Homo sapiens: one gene and its partner. The protein of the gene in region 2 interacts with the protein of the main gene of each other region in a pairwise test. Each region holds a gene or a part of one and is shown on either strand. Other genes may lie near its edges.

What was found.
Region 1: the proteins of PLEKHA1 (region 2) and CLDN14 interact in a two-hybrid assay, tested with the Homo sapiens proteins (one large-scale study listed by BioGRID and IntAct).

The regions. Positions count from the first base shown.
Region 1 is NC_000021.9:36,470,017-36,473,843, reverse strand, and holds part of CLDN14 (claudin-14), read left to right. Parts: intron 1-3,827.
Region 2 is NC_000010.11:122,394,978-122,398,804, reverse strand, and holds part of PLEKHA1 (pleckstrin homology domain-containing family A member 1), read right to left. Parts: intron 888-3,827; coding exon 831-887; intron 1-830. UniProt on the Homo sapiens protein: Binds specifically to phosphatidylinositol 3,4-diphosphate (PtdIns3,4P2), but not to other phosphoinositides. May recruit other proteins to the plasma membrane.

The DNA of each region.
Region 1 (3,827 bases), on a different chromosome or scaffold from region 2:
TGACCGTTCACTATCGCCCATTCCTACAGCCCGTGGCTGGCTCCTCTTCCTACCTCTATCCTCATCCCTCCCCTGATGTTGGAGGGTTCCTAGAATCAGCCCTGGAGCCCCTGCTCCTCTCTATCTAACGTTCCCTCCTAAGAGACTCCATCCCATATTTTAATCCCATCTCCATGCGGTGGTGACACAAACAGACTTCTCCAGTTCAGTCCCTCCCTGAACCCTGCACTTACATATGCAACCATGGTTATCCCCAGGTGGGTAGGCACAGACATCTCAAACTGAACAAGTCCAAAAGAAAATTCCTCTCTTCTGCCCTTCATCCTCTGTATCAGTCAGAGTTCTCCAGAGAAACAGAGCCAATCGAATATGCATTTATATAGAAAGAGATCTATTTATTCTAAGGAATTGGCTTGCATGATTCTCAAGGCTGGCAAGTCCAAAATCTGCAGGGTGGGCCAGGCACAGTGGCTCACACCTGTAATTCCAACAGCCTTGGGAGGCCAAGGTTGGAGGATTGCTTAAGCCCAGGAGTTCAAGACCAGGCTGGGCAACATAGTGGGACCTCCATCTCTATAAAACATTTTTAGAAATTAGCCAAGTGTGATGGCACATGCCTGTAGTCCCAGCTACTCAGGAAGCTGAGGTGGGAGGATCACTTGAGCCTGAGAGATCAAGACCAGCCTGGGCAATATAGCAAGAGCCCATCTATAAAATGAAATTCTGCAGGGTGGGCTAGCAGTTTGGAGACCCAGGATCACGGACACTGCAGTTTCAGTTGGAAGGCAGCCTGCTATAGAGCTGAGAAGGGCTGATGTTGGAAATAAAGGTCAAACACAGTCTGTTGGAGAGAGTTTCTTGCTCAGGTGAAGCTGCATGTTATGGACTAAACATTTGCATTCTCCCAAAATTCCTATGTTGGAGCCCTAAGCCCCGATGTGATAGTATTTGGAGACGGGACATTTGGGAGGTCATTAGGGTTCAATGAGGTCATGAGGGTGGGTGCCCTCACAATGAGATTCGTGCTCTAAAAAGAAGGGAAAGAGAGAAAGATTTCCTCTGCCTGCATGCAAAGAAGACGTCAGGTGAATTTCCACCAGGAACCCAAGCAGCCAGAACCTTGGTCTTGGACTTTCCAGCCTCCGGAATTGTGAGAAAATTAATTTCTGTGGCTTAATCCAGCAAGTCTGTGGTATTTTGTTGTGGCAGCCTGAGCTGATGGAGACACCAGTTTTTTCTGGTTCCAGTCTGGCCTTCACCTGACTGGGTGTGGCCCACCCACACTATGGAGGGCAATCTGCTTTCAATGTTAACCTTGTCCAAGGACTAACTTCACAGAAACATGAAGAATAGTGTTCAATCATATATCTGGGCACCCCATGGCCCAGCCAAGTTGACACAAAAAATTGATCATCACATCCTCCAAACCCAGATCTCCAACCCTCTTCAAGCTCTCAATAAGTGGCAACTCCATTCCTCCAGTTGCCCAAGACAATAACCTTAGGCACCTGTGTCTCACACCCCGCAGCTAAACCATCAGCACATCCCGCTAGCCTCACCTGAATATAGAAACTGACCTCTTCCTGGCACCCACCTTTATTTCCACCACCTTGGCTCGGCCTCCTGGCATCTCTTACCTGAAAGATCACAAGAACCTCCTGTTTGGTCTCCCTAATTCAGCCCAGACGTAACCTTGGACAAGTTATGTAACCTTTCTACACTTCAGTTTCCCTATCTGTAAATAAAGATGGCAAAATGCGCATTGCGATTTGTTTAAGAGTTCATTGCATGCCCACAGAAGCACTTAGCACATGTTTGGCATATCATAAACACTCTGGAACTTTAACTATGACTGTTTTTACTCTTATCATTAACAACTAACTGCTTTGGAGCACCTGGGCTTCAAAGGCTAAATTTACAGAGAATGAGTTTTAAACCTCATGTTTAATAGTATTTTCCTTACCATTAGAAAATCTTAGCCTTATGTTTTCATTTGACACATTTTAACCACTGCAGTTTATCCCCAGTTCAATTCTCAAGTAAATAATTTTCAGAGGCTTACGAAATTCACAGAATAGTTGTCTAATTCATGAAGGTTTTCAGCCAGGTGTGACAATGTCCTATTGCTTGTTTGGGGTTTGCTTTCTTTTTCTATTTTGCTGTAAGTCCTGACTAAAGGCGGAGCCTAGTGGGCTCTGCTGGATTTCCAAGGTAAAGCTTCAGCAGGCTTCTGAGTCACCTTATTCAAATCTGGACTCTGCCCCAAATTTGGGGCTTTTATGCTCTATGAAATCAAGACATGTTGACTTAAGAAAACCAGACACCCAGCCTGAAAAGGTCAGTCACCAATTATACCCCAGCCAATTGCACACAAGCTGGAGACATGAGCCCCCCCAAACTCTCTGTGAGCTAAGTGAATTCACACACTTTTTAAGCCTGGAGAAGCTGAGTCATTTGATTACTATATGGCTTACTTACTATAGATTGTGTTTGCACTTGAATTTTCAAATTTGCAGGGGACTTTCCAGATTCTTCTTTCTCCATGTCCTCTACCTTTTCCTTAGATTTTGTCCTCCACACTTTGAGACATGAAGCTAACCATGGCTTTGTTTTTTGTTTTTATGTTTGTTTGTTTTTTGTAGAGACAGGATCTCACTATGCTGCTCAGGAATGGCCTCGAACTCCTGGAATCATGCAGTCCTCCCACCTTGGCCTTCCAAATGTTGAGATTACAGGTGTGAGCCACTGCACCTGGCCTGTTTTTATCAATGACAAATGTGAAGCCACCAGATCACACTCAATGCCTGTCCTGGAAGGGGACGCAGTTCTTATAATCACAAATGAGGTTTTTTTGTTTGTTTGCTTTTTGAAATACGATGTTGCTCTCTCACTCAGGCTGGAGTGCAGTGGCACAATCTCTGCTTATTGCAATCTATGCCTCCCAGGCTCAAGCCATCCTCCCACCTCAGCTTCCAAAGTAGCTGGGATTATAGGCTTGAGCCACCATGCCCAGCTAATTTTTTTTTATTTTTAGTGGAAATAGGGTTTCACCATGTTGACCAGGCTGGTCTTGAACTCCTCAGCTCAAGTGATCCTCCCACCTCAGCCTCCCAAAGTGTTGGGATTATAGGCCTGTGCCATGGGGCCTGGCCGAGCATTTTCTCTGTAATTCCCCGTGCCACCATTCAGCTACTCTGCTGTGTTTGTTTCCTGGGGCTGCCATGACAAAGCACCACAACCTGGGAGGCCTGAAACAACAGAAATTTATTCTGTCATGATTCTGAAGGCTGGAAGCTTGAAACTAAGGTGTGGGCAGGCTGGTTCCTTCCAGGGCTGTGAGGGAGCATCTGTCCTGGGCCTCCTGCTGGGCCTCTGCGGGTTGCTGGCGATTCTCCGCGGGTTGCTGGCGATCCTCCACATTCCTTGACTTGGTAACTTCTCGCTCCACTCTCTGCCTCCGTCTGCACATGTTCTTTCTATCTCCGTCTTCATATGCCCATCCTCTTATAAGGACACCAGCCCTATTGGCTTAGGGGCCACTCTATTTTACGTATGACCTTATCTTAACTAATTACATCTGCAATGACCCTATTTCCAAATAAGGTCACATTCTGAGGCACTGGGAGCAGGGAAGACTTCAACATATCTCTTTTGGGGGACCAGGTCAATCCATTGCATCCCCTAGATAAAGTGTTCCCACAGAACACTTAACCATAAGTCATCCAACAATCAGCTAAGGCTTGAGGAAATGTTTGTATGTCCACCTGGGTTTTTTGGGGTATTGTTTTTTTGTTGTTGTTTTTGTTTTTGTTTTGTTTTACTTTTCT
Region 2 (3,827 bases):
ACATCTATCTTCTAAACAGAGGCACATTTGTAAATTGGTCTTCTGTTGAAGTGATCTACCTTTGCCAACAGATCTCAGTATATGCATAACAGTACCCATATTATTTAATAATACTGTTGCTACCTTTTGCATCTCATATATAAGTAATCAACAAACTTTTATTACTTTTATGTAACACACATGCACACACACACACACACACACACACACAAACCCATAGGGTTAGCACCTCAGCATCACTTAGTTCCCTAAACATTAATAGAAGAAAATAAGAAAAAAATGTACCTGACAAACATAAAATCAAAATTTTAAAAAATAAAAAATAGTATTGCAAAATTACCAGAAAAACAAATAAGAAAACAGAAATGAAAAGAGACAAAGTGAAAAGAGGGGGAAAATCATCCTTTCAACATGAAAATGGTCCATATTTTCCTCAAAATAAAACATTAAGAAACAAAGTATCAAAGACAATGGGATTTAAAAGTTGAAAACAGTCTAAATAAACATAATACAGACTTAGAAAAATCTCCAGACTTTCTCAAGATAGAATTTGTTTCACTGATTTCTCCCTTTCTGATGTTCATATACCTGATCATAAAAGTTAATGTTAACTTTTGCAATTTGCCACATCCTGTAAGTTAAAATCATATTCTTCATAACTGTATCGATTTAAAGAATTTCCTAAACGTAGTAATCAGGTACCATTTCAGTATGATAGGAATCTGAACATCACTGTTAAAGGACATGGAAAGGAAACTGCTGCTTCTATTCATACTCTCATTCACAGGGATTTTAATTCACACGAGTATAAGACAATGTATAAAGACTACCTTTGAAATGTAGGTAAGCTTAATGGCTCCAACACGTGATGATCCAGAAGGTAGGTTCTAGAAACAAAGTATTAATATATACTTAATATCCAATATTATGAATTCATTTTATAATATAATGTTCCACATATACTTCTGAAAAGTTAAAAACTCAATTTTTTAATATCACATTTTACAAATGAACTTTTCTTCTGTTCAAATTTTTACTAGGTCTGAAATCAAGTCCATAGCTTGGATAACAAAACTGAATCCTACTCTGTTCCATTATCATGCATTCTATGACTAAAAGGCTATTTTTATCACTGGAGCTAAACTAATACTTTCTCATGAGCTTAAAAAGCCATGAACAAGATCAGATTTTGTTCCTGAAAGCAAGGGGGAAATATTTACAGGCAGAAAACAAATATAATTGTAAGATACTTAAAAAGACTATACATATTACTTTGTTCTATTAAAATTTCTTTATCAAGTATCTCTTGACAAAAATGGACTGCATTTCCCCCCATTTAAATGGTTTACTGTTTTTTATGCCATATTAATCTACATTGATACTTTTTTTTCCACAAAAAAATGTTTGCTTCTCTTTATCATATGCAGGGAATGTAGGCACTTTCACACACAGTATTTTCATTCTTCCCGTAAGTTTCAGATGTGGTTTGCATCAAAAGAGCTAAAGGTAAACATAGAGGGAGAATCATCTCTGGTTGAAGCTATCCAGAAAGACTGAAGTGATGAACAACATTTAGGCTGGAGGTTAAGGAAAATTTTGAAACACAAAAAGCAGGGGAGAATATTCCAAGCAGAGAAAATGGACAAACTATAGCAAACAATGGAAGATGCACAGCTCTGTACTAGAAAGAGAGAGGGGGGCTATGTGGGGCTGTAATGCAGTGTCCTGTAAGATTGTAGTACAAAATGGTGGTCTGAAAACTTGAACTGAGAACCTAATCATAGAGGACCTAAATAAAAAAGTAGCAAAGAATTTATATCGTAGAGAATTTGAGGCCAACGAAGAAGGCTTATGAGCAGATCTGGAATCAAAATTATGCTCTTTTTATAATATATCTTATAATAAACTGAAGGGATTATAGAAGAGGAAGATAGAGGTAGGAAAACCAGACAAAAGAATCTGGGGAAAACAAATCAAGAATATAAATTTCATTTCTATGATAGAAGACTGATAAAAGACTGATAGAAGATTTCAGAAGTAAAAATGAAAACATTAGTTTTAGTTGATTTTGAAAATTATTTCTGCTGGAGATAAGACAGGATCAACTTTTCAACTGACTTTATAATAACGTACTTAAAAATATAAAAATCTATTGGCTTGTTCTAATGAATGATTAGGAGGTAACTGGAAGCCTAGACATTTCAAAGACTTAAGAGTCCCAAACATGAACTGCTTATTGTTGACAGGGACAGATCTTTTAAAAACTTTCACACCTATATATTGTAAAACTCCATTAATTATGTTCTGCTTTAAACTATATACTACGTACAAGCTTCCAAATATAAATCATCAATAGTAAATATGCATATAAAATAAAATTATAATTCATTAATGTATAACATTAAAAAGCTATTTGTATTCTTATGTATAACGTTTTAGATTTATGGGTTTTTGGTTTTTAACTTTAAAGAAGGAAAAGAAATGTAAATATGTCTTCAAGAATCTCTAACTACCACCAAAGTGATTTTTTCAAAAACTGTTACCCTTCCATTTAAGGGTAATAATTTATTTCTTTTCAGTTTTTCATGAGCCTATTATTTTAACTGCTGAATAGAGCTCTAAGCCTTTGTGGAAGGAAGACAAATGAGAAACCAAAGCATGACATAAAGTGTCACAGTAATAGTAGTACACTATGGGGAAATTTAAGTAGCTGAGAGAAAAACAATATTCAAAATACGCAGTTTCTGTGGACTAGTATGATTACCATCAGGTTCGACTGGAAAAAAATGAGATTCAAAATTTGTTACTTGACAATGAACAAGAAATAACAAACTAATAGAACATTTAAGAAAAAAAGGGAAATAGGCCATTTGTTGATTATGAGTTCCTAAACTCATTTTGCCAAATACTTTTTCGAATATCTTCAAATGCACTCCCTCGTACAGCAACTTAATTATTTCATTCTCCATGATTACCAACCTCCTGGACAAAACACAGGAAGCCCCAAAGTGATCCCTAATAAACACTAGAAAGAATTTTTAAACCCATGGTTAGTGGTAAAGGAAGCAGTGGTCAGGGGAAGAAGTGGCTTCCTAATAATAGAGGAATCAAACTAATTTTCTTTCTTTACCAAGGTTATTATGATCAGTATAACCATGTTATTATACTTTGACATAAGCAACTAGATTGAACCATATGACATTGCCATTTTTTTAGTAATTCAAAATGGCTGTATATTAGCAATTTCATATGGTTCAATCTAATTGCTTATGTCAAGATGCAATAACACGGTTATACTGAACATAATAACCTTGATAAAGAAAGAAAATAATATAATAATCTTAGCAAGACATTTTACTAAAGTTTTCAAGAGTAGGTATGTCTTGATTATTACATTTAAAAGTGACACCAAGTTGGTACTAATGGCTAATACACTGGCTGGCAGAATCAAGATTTCCTAAGTTGGAAAGAAGATATAAAATTAATAAGAACAAACTAAAAAATATTTAAATTCTGTACTTAAAAAAAAAACTGGCACTGTGTCCAGAAAAGCCAATGCATTAATTCTAACATAGAGATCTGGATTTTAAAAGTTTATGTGGACAAGACCTAGCTGAGTGCTATAGCCAAAGTGATCTAGTCTCCAAACACGCCATAGGCTCTCTTGCTTTGATCTCTGCCCACACTGTTCTTTGAGCACTGGAATACTCAACTTTTCCATCTCTTAGCCAATATTATATCCAAACTTCTAAGTCAATTTCAAATGTTACCACTTCCATGAAGACTTCAACTCCTTCTACTAGCTGTGTAACTTTCCTCTGAATTCC